Linked DNA regions of Homo sapiens: region 1 is linked to region 2. The links come from fine-mapping of genetic effects on gene expression. A gene starts in region 2. The other region holds a variant in brackets. All regions are shown on one strand. Distances are from middle to middle. Region 1 has its middle 22 kb from the start of TMED3. Region 2 holds the start of TMED3 (transmembrane p24 trafficking protein 3).

What was found.
Region 1: its variant is fine-mapped to the expression of TMED3 in whole blood (TOPMed, PIP above 0.99).

The regions. Positions count from the first base shown.
Region 1 is chr15:79,327,421-79,339,096 of GRCh38, reverse strand. It overlaps a transcript of TMED3 not described here. Among named protein-coding and RNA genes, the nearest start is that of TMED3, 22 kb to the right of the region's middle. RefSeq lists enhancers at 8,934-9,873, 9,167-10,366, 9,874-10,814. The variant A/G (reference allele first, on the strand shown) is at 5,709.
Region 2 is chr15:79,303,992-79,315,667 of GRCh38, reverse strand. TMED3 (transmembrane p24 trafficking protein 3) reads right to left here and starts at 4,556. Exons shown (of 3, transcript NM_007364.4): 1 at 4,251-4,556; 2 at 1,663-1,911. The coding sequence starts at 4,418. RefSeq lists silencers at 4,383-4,452, 4,663-4,712.

The sequences.
Region 1 (11,676 bases), 23 kb before region 2:
ATCTAGAAGGCAGAGCCAGGAGTACAGGATGGAACATGAAGGCAGACTAGGAGCATGACCACTGAAGCACAGCATCACAGGGAGACAGGCCCCTGGATAACTGCGGGTGAGCCTGACTAATGTCAGGCCCTCTACAAGAGGTGGAGGAGTACAGTCTTCTCTAAATTCCCCGGGGAAAGGGAGACTCCCTTTCCCGGTCTGCTTAGTAGTGGGTGTTTTTCCTTGACACTTACGCTACCGCTAGACCACGGTCCGCCTGGCAACGGGTGTCTTCCCAGATGCTGGCATTACCGTTAGACCAAGGAGCCCTCTGGTGGCCCTGTCTGGGCATAACAGAAGGCTCGCACTCTGTCTTCTGGTCACTCCTCACTATGTCCCCTCAGCTCTTATCTCTGTATGGCCTGGTTTTTCCTAGGTTATGATTATAGAGCAAGGATTATTATAATATTGGAATAAAGAGTAATTGCTACCAACTAATGATTAATGATATTCATATATAATCATATCTAAGATCTATATCTGGTATAACTATTCTTATTTTATATTTTACTATACAGGAACAGCTCGTGTCCTCGGTCTCTTGCCTCGGCACCTGGGTGGCTTGCCGCCCACAGTACAGAGCTTTTAATTTTACAAGGAACTTTCACAAATATTTTATTATTGAAACCTTGCAATAGCCCTAAGAGGTGAAGCCAGGGCAATTACCATCCTTCTATTTACTTTGCCTTTGAGATGTTTAATGCAGAAAATACTAATGGTAACATAACAAACACCCACATATCTGCCACTCAGGACTAACAAATGCTAATATTTTGTTATACATTCTTCAGATTTTTTAAAGAAAAAAATACTGCACAGATAAAATGGAAATCTCCTTTGTACCCCATCCCAATTTCTATCTTCAATTCCCAGAGGTAAACTTTTCTTTACAATCTGTGTTTTTATAATTTTACTATATATTATACATGAACACATTTATTTTTCCCATGAGCTATACAGAATAGTGTTTAATGTGTGTTTTTACTGATATATAAGTGATACCACATTGGATGGTTTTCCTTTTTCACTGTACACTCTGGTGTGTCTTCAATATTATTTCATGTTGCTTTATTGGGAGCTATTTTATTCATTTCCAACTGTTATAAAGTATCCCCATATACAAGCATGCAACGTTTTGTTTATTCATTCCCATCCATGTGCATTTGAGTTATATTGTAATGTTTTATCACCAAACACAATGCTGCAGTGAATATCATTGTACATTTCCCTTAATACCACATTTTGTTACAAACGAGGAAACTGAGGGTCAGAGGGGAGAGACCATGTGGTCTGCTCATCCTCACACAGCTCCCAGGAGCAGAGTCAGGATTTGATCACTACCGAACTGTTCCATACTCCAGGAATCTTCTGTGCACGTTCCTGCTGATGCGAGTGTGTGATCGATATCTTATAAAAGAGATCAGGAAAAAGGGAAGTAATTCAAGCTACGAAATGCACCTAGTCTTGACAAAATAGTGGTTCTAGTAGAATATAATTTAATTTTTTAAAAGCAGCATAGGTTGAAAGACTTGGATGGAATTTATCTAACACTGTCTGTTATTGGCTGAACTGTGTCCTCCCCTTTCTCCCAAATTATTCTATTTTTGTTTTTTGTTTTTCCCCCAAATTCTTATGTTGAATTCTGAACCCACAGTGTCTCAGAATGTTACTATATTTGGAGATAAGGCTTAAAGAAGTAATTAAATTAACTACAGTGAGCCCTAACCCAACATAACTGTTGTCCTTATATAAAGGGGAAATTAGGACACAGACATGCACAGGGAAGGGACCGTGTGAGGACACAGAAGACAGCCATCTGCAAGCCAAGGAGAGAGGTCTCAGGAGAAACCAACCCTGTTGACACCTTGATCTCTGACTTCCTGCCTCCAGAACGGTGAGAAAATTAATTTCTGTTCTAAGCCACCCAGACTGTTGGACACTTTGTTATGGCAGCCCCAGCGGACTATGACACTTTGCAACTGATAGCAGCTAAAGCAGATAGATCCAATAGATTCTGGTCAGTTCACATACAGGCTTGGTAGTAGTGAGGCCTGTTCCACCAGGGTCCACCACAGCCCAGAGCTTTCAAGCCCCTTGCTCTGGTGACAGATGCACAAAGCATTTGTTGTCTGTTATTATTATAACTACTTTGACACTTGGAAGTTGTGACATGGTAAGTGTCCTGAGTGTTTCATGTACTGGAAATATCTATGTCCCTCTATTTTATAAGTCAATCGATCAACTCTAGTGGGTGTAGTGGGTGGAGTTTGCTGGGTTGGATCCACCTAGAGTAAAAATATTAGCTAGGGTGCTAATGTGTTTTTTTCTTTGTTTGTTTTTTGTGTTTGTTTGTTTGTTTGTTTGTTTTGAGACAGAGTCTTGCTCTGTCTCCCAGGCTGGAGTACAGTGGTGTGATCTTGGCTCACTGCAACCTCTGCTCACTGCAACCTCTGCTCACTGCAACCTCCATCTCCTGGGTTCAAGTCATTCTCCGGCCTCAGCCTCCCAAGTAGCTGGGACTACAAGCACCTGCCACCACACCTGGCTGATTTTTGTATTTTTAGTAGAGGCAGGGTTTCACCATGTTGGCCAGGCTGGTCTCGAACTGCTGACCTCAAATGATCCACCCACCTCGGCCTCCCAAAGTGCTGGGATTACAGGCATGAGCCACTGTGCCCAGCCCTAATGTAGTTTGTTTTTGGCTCTATCAAGACACCCCCAGATCCAGCTCCACTAGCCAGCCAGTGGGGGCCTAGCTTTTTGATGTTTTAATATCTGCCTGCCAGAGCCACAGAGGTTCAGAGAGGGGAAGATTTACAACCTCATGTATAAGAAATGCCCCACCTCCGTGGCACCAGAATAAGAAAGGAGTGAATCTGTAGCTCCAGACTCCACAGCCACACTTCAGCTGCCACCCTTATCCCTGACCAATTATTCCTTTATCAAAATTTTTCATCAGGAATGGCTTGTATTGATCTTACAAACTTAGTTTTCAGGGCCTCTTGAGATGACCAAATGGCTTTCCTTATTTTCCTTACTAGCTGCATAGCCTTGGGAAAAGATTAAATTCTCTGTGTCTCAGTTTCCTCATCTGTAAGATGGGAGTATTAATGGTTCCTATGCTGCTGAGCTGTTGTGAGAGATTAATGAAATGCCACACAAAAAAGCACTAAGAACTGTGGTTGGTGCCTAGCAAGAACTCAATGTAATTTCTTTTGTAGTCATTAATGTTCTATCAGGAAAAGTTAGAAAGCTAGCGTTTACATTTTCTCTTACCTTCCCTCACCTCCTAATTCTCAATTTCAATTTGCTGTATTGCAATTTTTAAATAATTAGACTTCATAACATTTATAGTCCCTAGATTGTTCATAGTTGTCTAGCCTCAGCTGTATATTTTAATGGATGAAATGCTTGAAAACCTGCCCTTTTTGTGATGGCCCCTTTCCTTTCCTTACTCAGTAGAGTTTTTCCTGGGGTAGCTGATTCAAGAGTGGTTCAAAGGTGCTCTGTGCCCTGAATTCCTTCTAGTTTTAGAAAGGCCACCTGTGGCCTTTGTAACTGAATGACAAATTAGCAGTGTATCATTTCCCTGGGTCCACACTGTCTCTCCCAGAGTTCCCTGAGGACAGTATTCCAGGGTCTTATCCCAGTAAATGTCAAGAAATAGTTTGGGGTCACATGATTTCTCCCTCTGACAGGTTACTTGCTTTTTTGTCTTTGTTGTTTGTTTGTTTGATGAAACTTCAATGTTGTTTGTTTATTTTTCCCAGAAGCCCAGGAATATCACCAGAATCTGTCTGTGTTAATCATTTTGCTTTATTTTTTCCTGAAACGCAAGGTACCTTTTTAAACTGAGGATTTAGGTCTTCCTTGACTTTTATTAAGGCTTTCTTTTTTTACGTCTTTGAAATTGTTCTGTTTTCTTCTTCAGGAACACCAATTACCTGCATGATGGATATCCTTGTTGTACAAAGCTGTCTGGCTCTCCCTAATAACTTTCAGCTTTTTGTTCTTTTTGTTTTCCATTTGTTTTTCAGACAGTCTTCTCAAGCCTTTCTTTAGTGTCCCTCCCTTGATTTCAGCAGTGCAGTGCCTGTTCTCATTTTGGCATCTTAAAGTTAACTATCATTTCTGAAATGATGTTTCCTCTTCCACATATTCCCTGAGACTGGACAGCTCCTTTTCATCTCTTTTGTTGTATTATAACCCCTTCTACAATTTCTTGTAACCTTCTCTGAAGTCTTGTTGCCTTTTTTAATTTTTTTCCTTTTTCTAAGACTATGAGGGAAAAAATGTGTGCACTGTTTGACTTCCTGGAGTAATTCTTCCGAAATACATTTCCTGCGTGCCTTCTATTTGTTACTTTGCCGTGATCCTGGTCTTGAATTGTCACTTTTCCTTTTGTGATCCAGGTCACTGATTTGCTGAAGAGTCACACTGTGTGGGGAGAAGTTGAGGCAGAAGCAAGCTGCGAGTCAGAGGTGCCTTCTCCACATCCTTTCTCATCAGTTCTCCTGAGATTTGGGGCTATAAAGCTCCCCCCGACCCTTCCTTCACCTGCCACATCTCCTGCACACCTGCCTGAAAAGCTTCTCCTCTGACCCCACCTGCCCTGCCACTCTGAAATGAGGAAAAGAGAAGGGGTCACCCCTGCTGCTCACACATGGCCCCTAGATGCTGCCATTCCAAGCTCCACCATTTGGCCATTCAGGACCAAAACCTTCTTCTTTTAGGAAAGTCTTAACCCTCTAGGACTGTTCTAGTCCTCTCCTTCCCTTTAGTTCAAATATCACTGCATTTGACAGCCACTCTTCATAGCTAGTGATTTTTGACTATGGCTCTTTCCTGGTTTCAGTAATTTAAATTCTATTTTACTCTTATTTGCTTGGGTTGATTTTAAGGAACTGGATGTCGGGGGAAGACAGGGATCTTCCTTTTTACTTCAGAAGCCCAAGATAATTAGTTTAGAACAGTTACTCTTAAGCTATTAGTTCTATTAATTTGCTATTAGCTAATAGCAAATTAAGTTCTACTAATTTGCTATGGTCTGTGAGGCTACTCTGGATTTGTGATAATCTTATCAAACCACAAATGCTTAGGAGGATATGTTTTCCCCAATTTCTTAGAGCTGAGGTGAGTGCATATATATTAATAAAGTTGGTTTTGATTCAAACCATGTTTGAAGGAGAATCTACCTGAGTACAGCCCTGTTTTACTTAGTTTGAAATATTATATTGTCATTTGAGGACTCTTTCCTACTAATTCTAATTCTCACAGTAGCTTTAAACAAAGGGTGTGGGGGCCTCAGCCACCAGGAGTCTATATTGAAAAAAGGTAGCCAAGCCATTACTGTTTCCTGTGCACTACTGAAAGCTGAAAATAGCCCAACAAAACATGTGAAAGTCTTATCAAGTTCTTGAACGATTTCTCCAGGATGTGATCAAAAGTGTAAAAGTAGTTACTGGTGCAGAAGCCATATCTGAAGACTATTTCTTCCTATGGTCAAATATTGAACTGAAAAACACAAACCTGCAGAAGGAAAATAGCCTTAAACTATGTTAGCATCTCCAGAATTATAATGGCTCAGTAGTTTTGAGGGCATACAAACGCTTATGTCTAGCGTTATATTAGGAAAAAGACAGTTGCTTTCTACATAACCTAAAAGTTCC[A/G]GTTTGCAGTTTGGTGGTGAGCAGGGAGGAGTTAACAACATTCTAGTCTGTCACTGCCACCAGAGCTGGAAAAACAGGTTCTCCCCAAACTTGCTCCATATCCTGTCATTCAACTGTGTTAGATTTTGCTTGCCTATGAGTTTGACCAAGAATGTTCTATCAGCATTCTTACAATTTTGCTTAAATAAATGTCACAGGGGAATGGTCTCCCCAGTAGACCTGTACCAGGTAAAGTCCTAGCACAGATGCACTCCGACTTTTGGTTCTTTGGAGATGAATGTCCTAGAATACACAGAGTTTAAAGACTGTCCCACTGCAAGCAGGCAGTCAGAATGGAGTGCAAGAGAAGGATTTATGCAAATGTCAAAGCACAGAGGAAGCAAACCAGGCGAGATGGAACACTGGGCAGTCAGGGGCCATTCATTCCTGCACAGACTGGGAATAAAGTGGCCACAGGCTTCACCTCAGCTATGTTTTTCCCTAAGGCTGGAGAGGAGGTGAGCCTGAAAGTTTGGAAATGACGAAGTTAAATTGCTAGACTCCATGTCCCACATCATACAATATGGAAGCCCAGAATACATCATAAACACTAGATCAGATGACTTTTGTTCAGAATGTCACCCAGCTGTGCTCCAGGAGGGAGATATTAATCCATGGGAAATCACAACCAGGTAGGTCCGTGGGCCTGGAAGGAGGCCACCATGAGACACTTACAGCTGAATGATAAGCGAGAATGGGCCTGCCGGTTTTACCTTGTCTGGAAAGCAGCCCGCCTTGCCCCAGCATACTGGCCAAGCCTCTCAGAAGGCAACATCTTCCTGATGGCAATAAACTATGGGACTATTGCTGGAGGGTTGCCCTTAAGAGAAAAACCAAGTCTTTAACATGTCTTAGTGGGAGGAAGATTCTGGTAAAATAATAGCTTGAATGTGCCCCAATTGCCCTCTACTCCCACTTTTAACTCATCCACCTCACCAGGCTGAAGAGTTTCGCATTGGCCAGATGGCCTGTGTGAGCGAGGCATCACCACATCTGAGAGTTTTGAAGCAGCTGTACAGGATTGTCTCCCTTGGAGCCTGATGGGCAATCCTGTCTGCTGCTCTCAATTAATACAGTTATTAATTCTATCCATTGATGATGGCGGTATCTACCTGCTCTATCATTCCCTCCATTGGTTCCTTTAACATCAGTATGTAATCTTCCTGTTCAGTACGATAGTTTGCCTTGAATTCTATTTTGTCAGATGCTACGGCTATTGCCTCACTTTTCATTTGGTTATTTCCCTGGAAAGTCTTTTTCATCCTTTTCTTTCTTATTTATGTATTTATTTATTTTTGAGACAAGGTCTTGCTTTCTTACCCAGGCTGGAGTGCAGTGGTACAATCATAGCACACAGCAGCCTCCGTCTCCCAGGTTCAAGCAATCCTCCCACCTCAGCTTCCACAGTGTATAAGAGTTCCCTTTTCTCTGCATCCTCACCAGTATTTGTTATTTTTTGTCTTTTTCAAAATAGCCATCCTAACTGGGGTGAGATGATACCTTGTTGTGGTTTTGATTTGCATTTCTCTGATAATTAGTGATGTTGAGCATATTTTCATATATTTTGTCGGCCATTTATATGTCTTCTTTTGAGAAATATTCATTCAGATTGTTTGTCCATTGTTTAATTGGATTTATTTTTTATCTTTGATATGTTTGAGTTCCTTGTACAGTCTGGATATTAATCCTTTATCTGATGAATACTTCGAAAATATTTTCTCCTGTTCTTCAGATTGTCTCTTCACTCTGTGTCTTTTGCTGTGTAGACTTTTTAGTTTGATATTATCCTTTTTTTTTTTTTTTTTTTGCTTCTTTTGCCTGTTCTTTTGAGGTCTTATTTATAAAATCATTTCCCAGACCAATGTCCTGAAGTGTTTTTCCTTTGTTTTCTTCTAATAGTTTTAACATTTGGGGTCTTACATTTAGGTCTTTGATCATTTTGAGTGGATTTTTGTGTTGGGTGAAAGATAAGGGTCTACTTTCATTCTTCTGCATGTGGATTTTCAGTTTTTTCAGCACCATTTATTGAAAAGACTGTCCTCCCAATGAAGGTTCTCAGCATTTTTGTCAAAAATCAGTTCACTGTGTTATGGTTTGGGTTTATGTCCCCACCAAATCTCATGTCAAACTGTAATCCCCAATGTTGGAGGTGGGGCCTGCTGGGAAGTGATTAGATCATGGGGGCAGATTTATCATGAATGGTTTAGCACCTCTTGGTGCTGTCCTCACAATCTGGTTGTTTAAAAGTGTGTGGCACCTCCCCTCTTGGTCTCATACTCCTGCTTTCACCATGTGAAGTGTTGGCTTCATGAGTAAAAGCTCCCTTAGGCCTCCCCAGAAACAGATGCTACTATGCTTCCTGTACAGCCTGCAGAACTGTGAGCCAATTAAACCTTTTTTCTTATGAATTACCAAGTATTGGGTATTTATTTGTATCAATGTGAGAATGTACTAATATAGCTATAGATATGTAGATTAATTTCTGGGCTTTCTATTCTGTTCTCTTGATCTATGTGTCTGTTTTTATGCCAGTACCATGCTGTTTTGGTTACTACAGCTTTGCAGTATACTTTGAGGTCTGGAAGTGTGATACCTCCAGGCTTTGTTCCTTTTGCTCAGGATTGTGTTGGCTATTTGGGGTCTTTTATGGTTCCATATAAATTTTAGGATTTTAAAAATATTTCTGAGAAAAATATAATGAGTATTTTGATGGGGATTGCCTTTAATCCACAGATTGCTTTGGGTAGTATGGTCCTTTTAACAATATTAATTTTTTGATCCATGAGCATGGGAATTTTTTCCAATTACTGTATCGTCTTCAATTTCTTTCATCAGTGATTTGCAGTTTTCCTTGTAGAGATTTTTCACATCCTTGGTTAAATTTATACCTAGGTATTTTATTTATTTTATAGATATTATAAATGGGATTGCCTTCTTGACTTCTTTTTCAGCTAGGTTGTAGTTTGTATATATAAATGTTACTGTGTTTTGTATGTTGATTTTGCATCCCGCAACTTTACTGAATTTGTCAATTTTAATAGTTTTCTGGTGGAGTCTTTAGGTTTTGCTAGGAATAAGACCATGTCATTTACAAACAAGGACAATTTGAATTGCTCCTTGAATGACCTTTATTTCTTTATCTTACCTAATTGCTCTGGCTAGGACTTCCAGTACTATGTTGAATAAGAGTGGTTAAGAGTGGGCATCCTTGTCCTGTTCCAGTTCTTAGAGAAAAAGCGTTCAGCTTTTCACTGTTCAATATGATGTTAGTTAAACCTTAGCTGTTTAGTCATTGCCTTTCTTGGGGTGTGGTGAGGCGAGGAGGTGGGGAATGACCACCGGGCATCTCTAAATAGCCATCCTGTTGCTGTCATTTTTAACATTCTACTTTTATATTTTTCATATATAGCATTTCTACTTGGTTCTTTTTATGACTTCTTGTTACAGCAAAATATTATTAAAATATTCTCTTGTAGAGTATATTTATCATGCTGCTTAAAAAAATTGTGGTCCACATGTGTCACACCAAGTGTCAGGTTCCAGCCCATGCTGAGGTCCAAGGGGAGTGGGTGGATGGGTGGCGGACAGCAGGAAGAACATTCGGGGGCTGTAGACAGGTGAAATATGGTTTTATTCAGCAGCTCTCTCATGCTGTCTGCTTTTATCTCCGCTACCTGCTCCGGCTCTGAGGCTCCTGCGGCTCCTGTGGCTCCCACACTTACAGCTGCATTCCCTGGCCTGCCAGGCCACCTCTGCCTTACAGGGTCAACAGCTTCACACTCTCTCCCTCTCTGGGCACAAGCTGTATGTGCAATGTCAGCAGGGCAGTTATACCTTTTACAAACAATAGTGGCTCTGAGCCAAGTACAAGCTTACACAAACAGGCTATTTAACAAGTGGAGTTATGCGCCTGTGTGCTAAACTTGCTGAGTCACTCTGGCCAGGATGTCTGCCTCTGCCTATTCCTGACCAAAGCACATCCATTTACCTTACAACATGTTCCAGTGATTCTGGTATAACGATATTTTGTATCCATTTGTTGTATCCCCTGCAGTCTAGCTGTTTGGGGCTGTGAGTCATGCTCCCATGAGGTCTGGTGATGTGTATTGAGAAGGGCTAAAGGCCAGGCCCTGGTTGTTGTCTCTTTAGAGAGTTTAAGGGAAGGAAGGGAACCCCTGGACAGAGAAAATCACAGAAGAAAATCCCCATTTGCTAATACTTGACAACTTCATTCAAAGTTCACTTTAAACTCTCAGAAACAACCACTTTGGAATAAAATGGTGGCCTTAGTTTTTAATCCACCACCCCTAGGTATTAAAAAGGGGAGGACAAGGAGGACTGGATTCCACCCAGACAGGGGCTTTGATCTACCTGCTATTGTCCCATAGGGCCAACAGCAACCTGGGCTGTGCCACTGAATTCATGGCAAAGGGGTCGGCTGTGGGTGCCTTAAGGCAACACATGGGAGAGGCAGGCACAGAATGGAAATGTTTTTCCTCCAACTTTGCTTCTCAGTGCTCTCCAGGGGCCTCTGCCCCCAGGCTACAGTGTCCTCCCACCCCTCTCCACAGACCCCTCTTCCAGTTTCTCACAGCTGTGTGTGTGAGAGAGTTCCTCAGATGCAGGCTTCTCTCTTGCTTCTGTGGTTTCTCCAGGCTTGATGTGGAGGATGGTCACCTTGCCAGGTCACTACCTGAAGGTGACATGGGGTCTTTGTAACTTATCCTTGCCCCCAACCCCATCCAACACATACACTTACTCCACTGTTCTGCAGCTTCCAGATGTCTGTCCACCAGGTGCAATGCAAACCCAGCCCATTTTGGGGGGCTGGCTGTGAGCATGGCTAAACCAAAGGTCGCGTCCCAGGTGCAGCCCACACAGGCTTTAGACCTGCTTAAGGCCCAGTTTTTTTGCATAGAAGTCAGGGGAATAGATAAATTTTAGTTAATATTTTAATTGCCTGAAAGATTACTTTATAAATTAAAGGAAAATGGGGTTTTTAATTTTTTTTTACAATTAAAAATGCAACTCAAATATATTTTCTTTTCGAAGGCAAGTGATACGAGAAGCCAGATTATCATCAAAAGACTGCTTGGTGATCCTAAGAGGATCAGCCGTGACTTTTTCTTCCTCCTATATCATACAACCCACTGGCTCCCTTGTGCTTCTTTCCTTTTGCGATGAATACAGTTACCAAGAAAGGTGACTTTTTTAAACCACTGTTGAATCAAAGTCCAAGAGAAAGTAACGTGCTTTGGCATTCACTAGAGAGCTTGAGCAGAAGCAGCTTCATTTTCTATGAAGAGCAGAACAGTCTCCAACACTTATATGTCATTTAGGAGTTGATAACTATATTATATTTACTTTTGTAGCTCTTAGAATTCTTACACAAGCCCCCAAACACATAGAAAAAGATATGGCCATTGGCTGAGTGCTGCCACCCTAACTAACCCCAAGGAAGCAACTATTTTCTATTTTATTTTAGAAGGCTTGTGATCAGATAAAATGAACCATCCCTCAAATGACTATAGCACATAACACTGAAACTCCAGGGAGAAGCAAATAAAAGCTGTCGAATTGCCAGTTCCAACAAGAAGTAGCAAGAATGTCTGACAATACTTTCTCATAGATAGATCTAGATGGTCAGACTCTCCCAGATACCATCACATCAAGTTTATTTAGTAGTGTTTTTTTGGGTGCGTGTGAGTAGAAAGAAGGAAATTAGTATTTGTCTCAGACCAGTATTGTGCTAGGCACATTCGCATACAGGATCAAACAGCAGGGCTGGAAGAAATATACTGAATACACAGGTCTCTGTGCTCGAACATTTGTACATTTAAAAGAACATCCAGCCTTTTCCCAGAATTTTCCAACCCAGGGGTGATTATATGTGTATTTGCAGTTTTGTTCTAATCATCCCTGTTTTCTA
Region 2 (11,676 bases):
GAAGCATAAATCACTCTTTCCTGCAACAAAATCAAACTACTGCTCAGGCTCCAGGAAAGAATGTCTCTGTTGACCTAATTCTTTAAGGCTTTTCCTACCAATTTGTTTTCTACTGGTTAAGGGGGAAGTTCTTCAGCTCAGCTTTTGGAGACTTACAGAATCTTCCCAATAGAGGCTGTCTCAACAGTGGCCAACAGAACTCTCATGAGTATCGGTTGCAAAAGATCTTACACACAATACACACCCTCGGCTGGATCTTCTAACAGAAGTCATGTTGCCAAAAGCCCAAAGATCAAACCCAGTTTTGGACAATGGAACTTTCTATGCATGGCCACTAGCCACCTGTGACTATTGAGTACCTGGAGTATTGCTATGGTGCAGATGAGGAAGTGAATTTTTAATTTAATTTTAATTAATTTAAATAGCCAAATTTAGACACTGGCTACTGTACTGAACAGTGCAGCTCTAGCCTCCAACTGCTTAGGGAAGGTGGAAGACTGGGCAAATGAATCCACAGGCACTCGTGAGTGTGCCCAGAGCCACAGAGGAAGGATGCCACCTTGGAAGGCGGCCCAGAAGATCATCTGGCCTCCTTGAAAGTTCAAGACGCTGTGGCTTTGGTTCTGGCACACGTGCTGCTATCGATGGTTATTCCTGTCTTACAGGTTTCCCTGGGCCCTGACAGTCATTTCACAAGTATTTGGTGAGCTCCTTCCTGTGCCCTACCTTATGCACTGAAGCACTGAGGATACAAAAGTAAATCATTCAGGGTCCTAGCCCTCAGGAAGCCCCCAGCCTGCATATGAAAGGGAAGGAGGGGCTTAAATAGCAGAAGGGAAGACAGACGAAGGAGGATGGGATCAGAGAATAATGAACCTTGACAGCCATGGGCGACAGACATGACTATCCCCCCAAAATGTCACCGTTTCTCCTCCATAGTGTGGAGCTGTTGCTAAGGCTCTACTTGCCAGCCTTCCTTTCATCCAGCTTTGCCACATGACTAAGTTCTCACCCATGGGACATGAGCAGGTGATACGTATTCCCACTGGGCCTGGGCTTTTAAGAAGTAGATGGGCTTTTCTCATTCTCTCTTCCTTTGGCAGCTACAGGCAGAAGACCCTGAAGCCCTAAGGGAAGACAGAAAGATGACAAGAAAGAATGAGCCTGGATTCCTGAGTCACACCATGGAGGAAAGCTCCCCACCAACCTTTTCTAGATTATGCATGAGAATAAACTTCTATTCTGTTAAGCCATTGATGTTTGGTGTTTATTTTGTTACAGCACCTTGTGTTACCTTAACTAATACACCACACAAAGTAGGACTTTGGTCTTTATGATACAGGCACATCATATAAGCAGAGACACATGACACAGGTACTTCGAAAGTGGTACTGTGCAAAAGACTGAGTGGGAATGAAAGAGTAGAGACAGGAATGTCAGAGGAAAGTACTGCAGGGACCTGGTTAGAGAGTGGAAAGGAAGATCGAAAGAAGAGCATGGCATCCTTTAGGACTAGGTATGAAGAAAGAGACAAAACCAACCCTGAGACTTCCAGACTGGGAGCTGGATGGATGATGACTCCCACCACCAGCCTAGACAGAGGCCAATGAAGAGGAACACGCTAGGGGGTTCAGCAGCCCCGAACTGCTAATGTTCACTCACCTGGGTGAGAGCTGTGACCCTGTTCCCCATGTCTGGGAGAATGGGAGGCTCATCGCCCACTTGAAAGTCAAAGTAGACGGTCTTGTGAGAGAAGGTGGAAAACTCATTACTGAAGCAAAACTGATAAACGCCCTTGACTTCAGCCCGGTACGTGAAGCTGTCGTACTGCTTCTTCGTTTCTCTGTAGATGGTGTTCCCCTGGGGGTCCTCTACATAGCAGTCAACATCGTAGTGGCCTCCAGTGATGACCTGACAACCATAAAAAAATTGCTGTTATCAAAGGAGCAACCACCACTTACCAAATGCCAACCAGACACTGTGATCAGACTCTACAAACATTTCTGTCACTTCATCTTCAAAACTTTCTAAGGCAGGTGCTACGCCACTTCTCATTTTACTAAGGCTGAGCAAGGTTAAATAAATTGGCTGTGGTCACACTGCTTGAAAGTGAAAGGGCTAAGATTTGAATCTATGCCTGCCTGACTCCCAAGTTTGCTCTGCAGGGTTTCAATGAGCCTAATCCTTTCCATTTTACAGAAGAAGAAACTGAGGTTCCAAGGTTAAGTAAATTCCCTAAGGTTACACAAGAGAAAGTGGTGAGATGAGATCTGCCTTGAGAGCTTTTGGTTCCAGTGCCTAAACATTTACCTATTGCACTATTCTGAAGCATGAATGAACATACCCCAGGATAACTGCTCTTCCTGAGATGGTGCTGATAAAGCTTCCCGAAATCAAGAGCAAGATGAGGAGGGATGTCCAAGAAACTATTCCAATGCAACTAGATGCCACCGATTCTTTATCTTTGTTCAATACTTAACACAAGACACACAGCAAATCACTGATTTAGGGCACTGCCACTCATTAGCCATGTGACCCTAGACAAGTTACTTTATTCTCTGAGGATATGTCTTTATCCATGAAGTGAGGAGTCAATAAGTTATCACACCTAAAGTGTTTAGCACGGTGTCCAACATAAATTTAGCAAGGGCCCCAAAAGTGCCAGCCAATTACTGGACAATCGTCAGACTGCAAACTAACCCCCTGGGGTTGCAGTGGAGATGTGGGATCTGATTTGGGGGCCACCCTAGAGCATGCATGCTGCACCTCCTGCTTCTCCGTTCCAATAACAGACAGGTGTTCCCCCTCCCCCCACCAGCAAGGGTCATTCTTGGCTTGCTGAATGGGTCAAGTAGCTATTAACAATATATTATTAATGACTGAATGCAAGGAGAAGAAAAATATTGATCGAAGTATTCATGGAATTTCTGAGTGTCAGCGGTGGAAGAGTCTTTGGGAATCATTTAGTTCAAACTCTCCTTGTAACATAAGAAAAATAAGACCCACATAAAGCAAAATCTCACAGGTAGGCAATGGCTATAACCAAGATCCATCAAAGGACACGGTCAATGGCCTCCATCTGCTTCCAAATTTAAATGGCCTCTTTGTCCGGACAAAAGTTACTAGTCCTGCTCAGCAAGCTTTGCAAAAAGCAGTGAGTATCCTGTTGCTAAGTGTGTTTAAACCCAGGCTGGACACACTTTGACAAGGGATTTCCGCCCTGGCAGTGACCAGATGACATCTGAGGTCCCTGCAACCACAGAATTATCATTCTTTTTGTCATTGCACCTAGGTTGCCCATGTTAACCCAGTCACAATTTGCATGTTGTCCACAAAGACCTGAAAGTGGACAAATCAGTGACTGAGACTACCACATAGAAGTTGTCTCCAAGCGCAAGCTTCCTTCAGTGCCTCTAACCACAGAGGAACTGGTCAAATAGCTTGCCCCCATTCCTGCTGCCCGTGGCCCCTCATTTCTGAAGTGCCTATCAGCATGCGTCCACAAGCAGATAGCTGTCTGAGTATGATGCCCACTTGGCCCCCAACCCTAGACCTGCTCACTAAATATCGGGGCAGACTACTCACTCAAGACCTGCTCCTGTCACCTGTGGGCCACGGGATCTCTCAAAGGAGACAGGAATACAGGAACTGAGCTTTTCTAAGCCATATGGCAAGAGCCAAGTCTTGCAGCCACACCGCTCCTTGTAAACACCGCCAGGCCTCAATGGCTGCACTGATCCCTCCTTTCCAAAGTGCCCATTCTCACTTCTGCTGCCCTCACCTCACTCCAACTTTAAACGCTGGAGAGGGGAGGAATAAACTAAAACTATGAGCCCACTTCCTCTTGCTGCCATTTTTCAGTACTCGAAGGCACAAGGTGGTCTAAGAGACTGGGGTTAGAGAGCCTGTGTCCAGCCGATCAGAACTGCCGTTGGTTAGTGTCTCGGGGGCCTGCGGATATCTCTTTGGCCAGCTCCCCAGGCTGCGGGATCCGCCCTGGCGTCCCCATCCCGGGCTCGCACCTGCGGCGCTGACTACCTCCTCGCTGGCCAGGCTCGTCTCGGGTGGGCCCTGATGACCCAAACCTTCCTCCTCACGGGGAAGTCAACTGGTCTCCGGGGACTCCCACCCCATGCAGCCTCCCTGTAGCCTGTGGCTAATTCGAGCGCCTCCAGTCAGGGGCTAGCCAGTGTCCAGGTGAGACCTGGGAGTGGAGGGAGAAGGGAGCGCTGCCGGGCGCCCGGCCTCACCTGGTAATCCAGGGAGAACTTCACGCCCTGCTCCACCTCCTCGTGGAAGCACTGCTTGGCGTTGTCCGGCAGCTCGAAGGTGAGCTCGGCCCCGCAGGGCTGCTCGGCCCGGCGCAGGAGCAGCAGCAGAAGCAGCACGGAGGCGGAGCGCGGGACAGTGCTGCCCATGATGCTCTCGGTCCCGTCTCGAGGGCCGCGGCTCGGGCGCTGCGCCCCCGGCGGGCTGGGGCGACGACTACCGACCGGGTCCTAGGAGGATGTAAGGGGATAGACGTGGCACCAGCGGAGCTCTGCGCTTCCGGGAGGGCCGGCGGCTCAGTGCGCAGCCGCGCGCTCAAAGTGGGCCCGGGCACCTTCCGCCCGCTGCGCGTGCGCGCTGGCCGCGCTGCGCCAGGGGACACGCCCCCCCCACCCCCCCGCAACGCCTCTCCCGGCTCGGAGGGTGGGTCTCCGCGGAGGGGAGGTGGGGCTCCACCTAGCGCGCCCCTACCCAGAAGAGGGAGAAGCCCTCCCCGCTGTTCTGCGCGCTCCCGGACCCGCAGGGCTGAGCATCCCCCCAGGTCGACCCAGGTCCACCCTCCAGCTGCTGCAGCACGAAGCACGTGGGATTTTACTCCCTCTATAAGGCTCCGCTTTTGACAGGCTCTGTAACTTCAGTCTCACACTTCCCTCGAGAACCAGTCTCCTTGTCTTGAAATGGGTGTGCCCAAACCTAACATCCACAGTAGTTAGGGAGCTAGGTGAAAGATAAGGGAACGCTGGGAACCCGATTAACACTCCTTTCTTCATTCCCATACCCTTCCCAAGGTGAAAGAGTGTGCGAAGGGGGTGGGGAGTGGGGAGAGTAAGTAAAGACCCATCATTACACCTGCTCTGGGAAAAACACGAGCGTGCTCACACACAAACGATCTCATGAAAATCCAAGTAAAGTCTCGCAGCGACTTCAGGTATATTTTGGCTGTCAGGCTCGTTGAAAATTCTTTTTGCACAAAACTGTCATTTTTGCACTTTGACTTCTTAAAAGCTCTGAAAGCAGATAAATTGGTTTACTGTCTTACCCATGACCACTGACTTAAGATTCTTTTGTATAATCGTAACTATAGGTATAGTTTTATATTCACTGTGATCCAATAAACAAAGAGAAAAGACGTAGATTGTGATGTCGATACTCAATAAATAACTTATTCAGGAGAGCATTACTAGACGTGGTATATCTTGACTTCAGGAAAGAATGTTACTGCCCATATAGATTTCCGCTGGCCACATTCACTATGGATGAACACGCTAATGTGTGAAAGCAATCTGTAGGCTTGGAAATAACATGCATGCATAACATAGTTAATAATATTGACTGGCTCAGTGACAGGCATGGAAGAGGTGTTTAGTAGTGTCCCTTAAGCTTCCTTCCCTGGCACGGTCCTATTTCACGTTTTTTTTTTTTTTAGGAACTGATAGAAAACATGGAAGTAATAATCATCTGATCTAGATGAACTAAGTGGAGAAATAAATGACAGATATAAAACCACAATTGGCCGGGAGTGGTGGCTCACGCCTGTAATCCCAGCACTTTGGGAGGCTGAGGCGGGTGGATCACGAGGTCAAGAGATCGAGATCATCCTGGCCAATGTGGTGAAACCCCTTCTCGACTAAAAATACAAAAATTAGCTGGGGGTGGTGGTGCGTGCCTGTAGTCCCAGCTACTCGGGAGGCTGAGGCAGGGAGGCAGGGGTATTGCTTGAACCTGGGAGGTGGAGTTTGCAACCTGGCGACAGAGCAAGACTGCGTCTCAAAAAAACAAAACAAACAAACAAAAAAAAAACACGATTGCCCTGGCACAGGTGGAGTGCTCTGCTAAGACTAACAAAAAGAAATTTCGGGCTGGGCACCATAGCTCATGCCTGTATCCCAGTATTTGGGGAGGCTGAGGCAGGAGGATTGTTTGAAGCCAGGAGTTCGAATCTAGCCTGGGCAACATAGTGAAACCTCGTTTCTACAAAAACAAACAAACAAAAATTAACCAGGCATGGTGGTGTGGGTCTGTAGTCCCAGCTACTTGGGATGCTGAGGTGGGAGGATTGCTTGACACCAGGTGTCTGAGGCTACAGTGAACTGTGATTGCACTACTGCACTCCAGCATGGATGACAAAGGGAGACCCCATCTCTAAAAATCAAAATAAATTCCTCCGGATTAAATGTTAAGTCTTACATTTAAGTTCCAAGAAAACACCTGCATAAGTTCAGGGGAGGAGCTGACATTGAAGAAGCTCTAGTCAGAGCATGCAGGCTGTTGGCTGGGACACCTCGGTTCTCCTCCAAGCATCCTCTTACATCTAATAGGCTAGATTACTTCCTTATATGGCAGGTTCAGGGCAGCATCCCAAGAGGAACTAGGCAGAAGGAGCAAGGCCCCTGAGACCTAAGCTTCAGACCTTTTCCAGTATGACTTTCTCCACATTCTGTTGACCAAAGCAAGTTCAAAGGCCAGCCCAGATTCAAGGAGGTGGAAAAATGGAATCTACCTCTGGATTTGAGGAGTTGCAAAGTCACATTGCAAAGGAGGGTCATACTGGGATGGAAGGAATTATGGCTGTTAAGCCATCTTCTATAGTATCCAGACTCACTCAGCTTGTCAATGGCTAAGCCAGAAAGTGAACCCAGATCTGCTTAATTCTGAAGACTACCAGCTTCCCACTAAACACACTGCCTCTACCCATACCTCAGGGAACACTTGTCCTACATGTTCCATAGGGCAAACCTTGGACCAAAGCATGAATCTGACACTGAGGCACATTTCAGCTCACACAATAAATGATTTTCTGGAACCAGAGATTTCCAAAAATAGAATGGACAAGGATAGTACATTTTTCATACCCGAAAATATTCGAACAGATGCAGGTGAACAACCAACCACTTAGCAACAACAGAGATGATTCATGAGCCTGGGTGACAGATAATAGTGGTGTATGACCTCTACGGTTCCTTCCAACCTTGATATTGCATGATATATGGCAAATATTGCGTGATATATGGTACTAAAGGTAGGATAACTTGAAAGAAAAACCAAAAATGTTTTCTATCCACTTTAGTCCTGGGGTGACTTCTGTAAAGTCCTTTTAAAACAGTAAATAAAAGAAACACACACATAAAAATAGTAAATAATAAATATTAAAACAGTAAATAAAAATGAGGATCTTAACAGATGCAGGAAAAAAAGCATGTGACAAATTCAACATCCATTCATGATAAAAACTCTTAGCAAAACAGAAATAATAGACAACTTCCTTAATGTCATAAAATGTAACAAATTTAGAGCAGACATCATGATTAATGATAAACATGTCTTTTCCTTCAAATTTGGGAATAAGACATAAATGCCTGCTATCACAACTGCTATTTAACATTGTCCCAGAAATTCTAGCAGGAAAGGTTAGGCAAGAAAAAGAAATAAAAGGACAAGAATTGGATATATAAACATCCAAATAGTGCTTATATCTAAGGGGAAGGAAAATGCAGAAGTCCAGAAGGGGCACCCAAGAGAGACTCATGAATGTTCACATTCTGACTTTCATTAACTGAACACTTAGGTTTTACTTCTCTAAGTATGTACAGATGCTCCTCGGCTTACAATGGGGTTATGTCTGAATAAACCTATCATGAATTGAAAACATCGTAAGTTACGTGTGTTATGATGAGATGGGCAGTATAAGGTGGACCCATCTGTGCCCTAAAGCAGAACTTTATCATTGCTTCATGCAACAGGAGCACTCCCTAGCATGCTATTAGTATGTTGAAACAAAATCAAAGTTTATCCATGCCTCATGCAGGTAATTGATGGTGAAGGAAAAAAGCAACACAATCGCTGTGTGGATTGACTAAAGCAAATGGAAACTTTGCAAACCGCTTAACGTTGCCATGGAGCTATAACCAATACCAGCTTTTCCCTGAACAAACCAGTCAGAGACAGGTGACACACACTGCCCTCCTGAGACTCACAAACTTCCCCAGAACAACTGTTTCTGTGGCTGTCAAGCATTTAACTATCCTTCCTATGGGTAAATCCCAAACTAGGTGAGAAACCAGCCTCCCTCTCATCACAGAGCAAAAGAGGGGCAGATAGTCCCTCTCCCTCTGCTCCCGGGTCCCAAGGTATGTGGGCATGGGATCCAGGCTCTGCCAACTGGGTGCCCTTGTATCTGACTCGGGGGGGCGGGTGTCTAGAGAGGTAGAAGCAGAGAGTATAATGGTGGTTACCAGGGGCTAGGGGGTGGGGGGCTTGGGGAAATGGCCAATGATTACAAAATTTCAGTTAGATAAGAGGAATAAATTCAAGAGATCTATTGTACAACATGGCATCTATGGTTAATAATGTAGTCTATACTTGAAAATCACTGAGAGTACCTTTTAAGTGTTCTTGCCACAAAAAAAATGATATATGCAGTAATATATATGTTAATTACCTCAATGTAGCCTTTCTACAATGTATGCATATTTTAAAACATTATGTTGTATACTTCAAATATACATAATTTTTATGTGAATTAAACAAACAAATTTAAATTTGAAAAAGAAGAAGAATGCTTCAATCTTTAAGCTTTGGACAGGAAAATATTGTGACTAAATGACTACAGAATGATCTTTAAAAATTGAAAAGCTTTTTGCAATTCACACATTATGTTGGATTCATGGAAATGACTCATATTCTCCCTTGAGTGTGAGGTAAAGAAACATTAATATCTTAAATATAGGAAGAGAATAATCCATGTGCCCACTCACCATGCATGAATTATATTTTCCTAGTGCTAAAAATTCAAACTTCTTCTTACCCCATTGGGTCTTTGTTTCTATATAAATAAGTATAATTTATTCTGCTTTTAAAAAGAGAAAAAGAAAAAAACATCATATAACTTATTATCTTTGCTGTAACATGGTGGAATGGAAAGATAATGAAATTCAAGACCCAAAACCCTGGCATTAATGTTTTGACATTCTGTCCTTGTCTGGGAGTCCACGTCTGAAACTTTAAAATAGAGGTTGAGGTTGGGGATTGGGTGAGTTGATGCCAAAGGTTTTCTTCTTCCAATTATCAAGACTTTTAATAATTTCAAACAGTGAGCTTGGGCTTCTTTTCTTCAATTTAAAAGAAAAACATAAAGAAAATAAGAAAAATTAAGGGAGGAAGGGAAGAAGGGAGGGAGAAAGAATGGAAGGGAGGAAGGGAAGGCAAGGAAAGGAAGAGTAGCCTCATACAGTCTATGTATTAGTGAGGATAAGATATTCTGCAGTAAAAATCAACCCCCAGATTAAAGAGAGAGCTGTTTTCCTTTCTCTTTCTTTCTTTTTCTTTTCCCTATTAAACCTCCACTCCTAAACTCCTAAACTCCTAAAAAAAAAAAAATCAACCCCCAAATATCAGGACTCAGCAAAAGTTTATTTCTTATCCCTTCTATGTTTTTCACAGGTTCAAAGGCAGAGATCTCTTCCATGTAGTCCTTCAGGGAACCTGACTGACAGAGATCCCCATAATCTTGAAATTGTTTCACCTGAAACACACTTCTCCTCCGCCACAGCAACAGGGGAAGAGAATGTGAGAAGATCTCTTATCAGCAATTACATGCATCAGCTTAGAAGAGACACACACATTGCTTTCACTCGTAACCTATCATCTTGAATTGATCTCATGGCCCTACTAAATCCCAAGGTGAATGAGATTTGTCTTCCATGTGTCCAGAAGGAGAGGAAAACTGAATGGTGGTGAATACTGGTTCTGTTTGCCACATCACGGTAAAACGAGTAATAATAAAGACATAAAAAAGACTTGCAGTTTCTGGTAAAGACAAGTTAGATTATTTGAACATAAATTTCCCCTAAAAACAACTAAAAATACAACTTTAAAAATGTTTTCTGGGAGGCATCAAAAAGCTGGCAAGAGAGTAAAGAATTACCCCGCCAAAATTGAAGGGAAAACAATAATCTAGAAAGAGAAGCATTCTCAAAAGTTACTTTTCCCATGAGGGCATTGGCCAATCCTGAACATTTTTGAATTTTCATTTTTTACAGTCTCACAGGGAGAGTGGACAAAAACCAGAGCCTTAAGGAAGTTGAGGGCTCATCATTTCACTTTCCTGCTCAGAAACTGTTACCGTCACTTGCTACATTAAATTCAAACTCCTGCCTTCACAGAAACAGCACATCCTCTCTCATCCTGACCATTTCAACTCATCCCAACCATCATCTCTATTCTACAAGGTCCAGTCTCCATTTGGGCCCCACATGCTATGGCAACCATGGTCATCTCCAACTCCGTGGCTGTGCTTGTGTTATTTATATGTCCAGAAGGATCTGCCAGATCCATTTGGGAACCCCATCCCACTCACACTCTCTACAAAACCTCTCTCTCCTAGAGCCTATGATGCCCTCCCCTCTACCTTTATATAATCATTCTTTGATTCTTCCTACTGTTTCAGGGGAATTCCTTATGGTACTTTGGTAAAAATTGAGGCTTGACATACAATACCTTGCATATATTTAAAGTGTACAATTACGTAAGTTTTCACATACACCTGTGCAGCCATCATCTCAAGCATGAAATAAACAAATCTATTTCCCACTAAGGCTTTCTCGTTCTTTTGTAATTCCTTCTTCTGTTGCTCCGCATCCTTGTCCTCTGTTCCTGAAACCATTGATCAGCTTTCTATCACTATACAATAGTTAGCATGTTCTAGAATTCTGCATAAATGGAATCATAAAATAGCACTTTTTTAGTATGACTCTTTAATCTTTGCCTAGTTATTTTAAGATTCATCCATGTTGTAGCAGATGCCAAAATTCATTCCTTTTTATTGCTGAGTAAAATTCCATTGTCCATATATGTATGAGTTTACTTCTGGTCTCTCTAATCTATCCATTGATCTGTTTGTCTATCTTTATGTCAATACCATACTGTCTTGATTACTGTAGCTTTATAATAAATGTTGAAATCATGTAGAGCTAGTCCTCCAACTTCATTCTTTTTTAAAGCTGTAGTGGCTATTGTAGGTCCTTTGCATTTCCAAGTGAATTTTATAATCAATTTTTTAATTTATAGAAAAATACCTGCATAAATAAAACAAACATATATATGTACAACCGGTTTTTCATAAAGGCACAAAAGACAACTCATTCAACAAATAGTGCCAGCAAAATTAGATATACATATGCAAAAAAGATGAACTTGGACCAATATCTCACACCACATACAAAAATCAATCCAAATGGATCGTAGACCTAAATGTAAAACCAAAAGATATAAAGCTTTTAGAAGAAAAATTGACAAAATATTTATGACCTTGAATTAGGCAAATATTTCTTAGATAAGACACCAAAAACACAATCTGTGTAAAAGAAAAAATTGATAAATTAGATTTTTAAAAATTCAAAATTTTTGCTT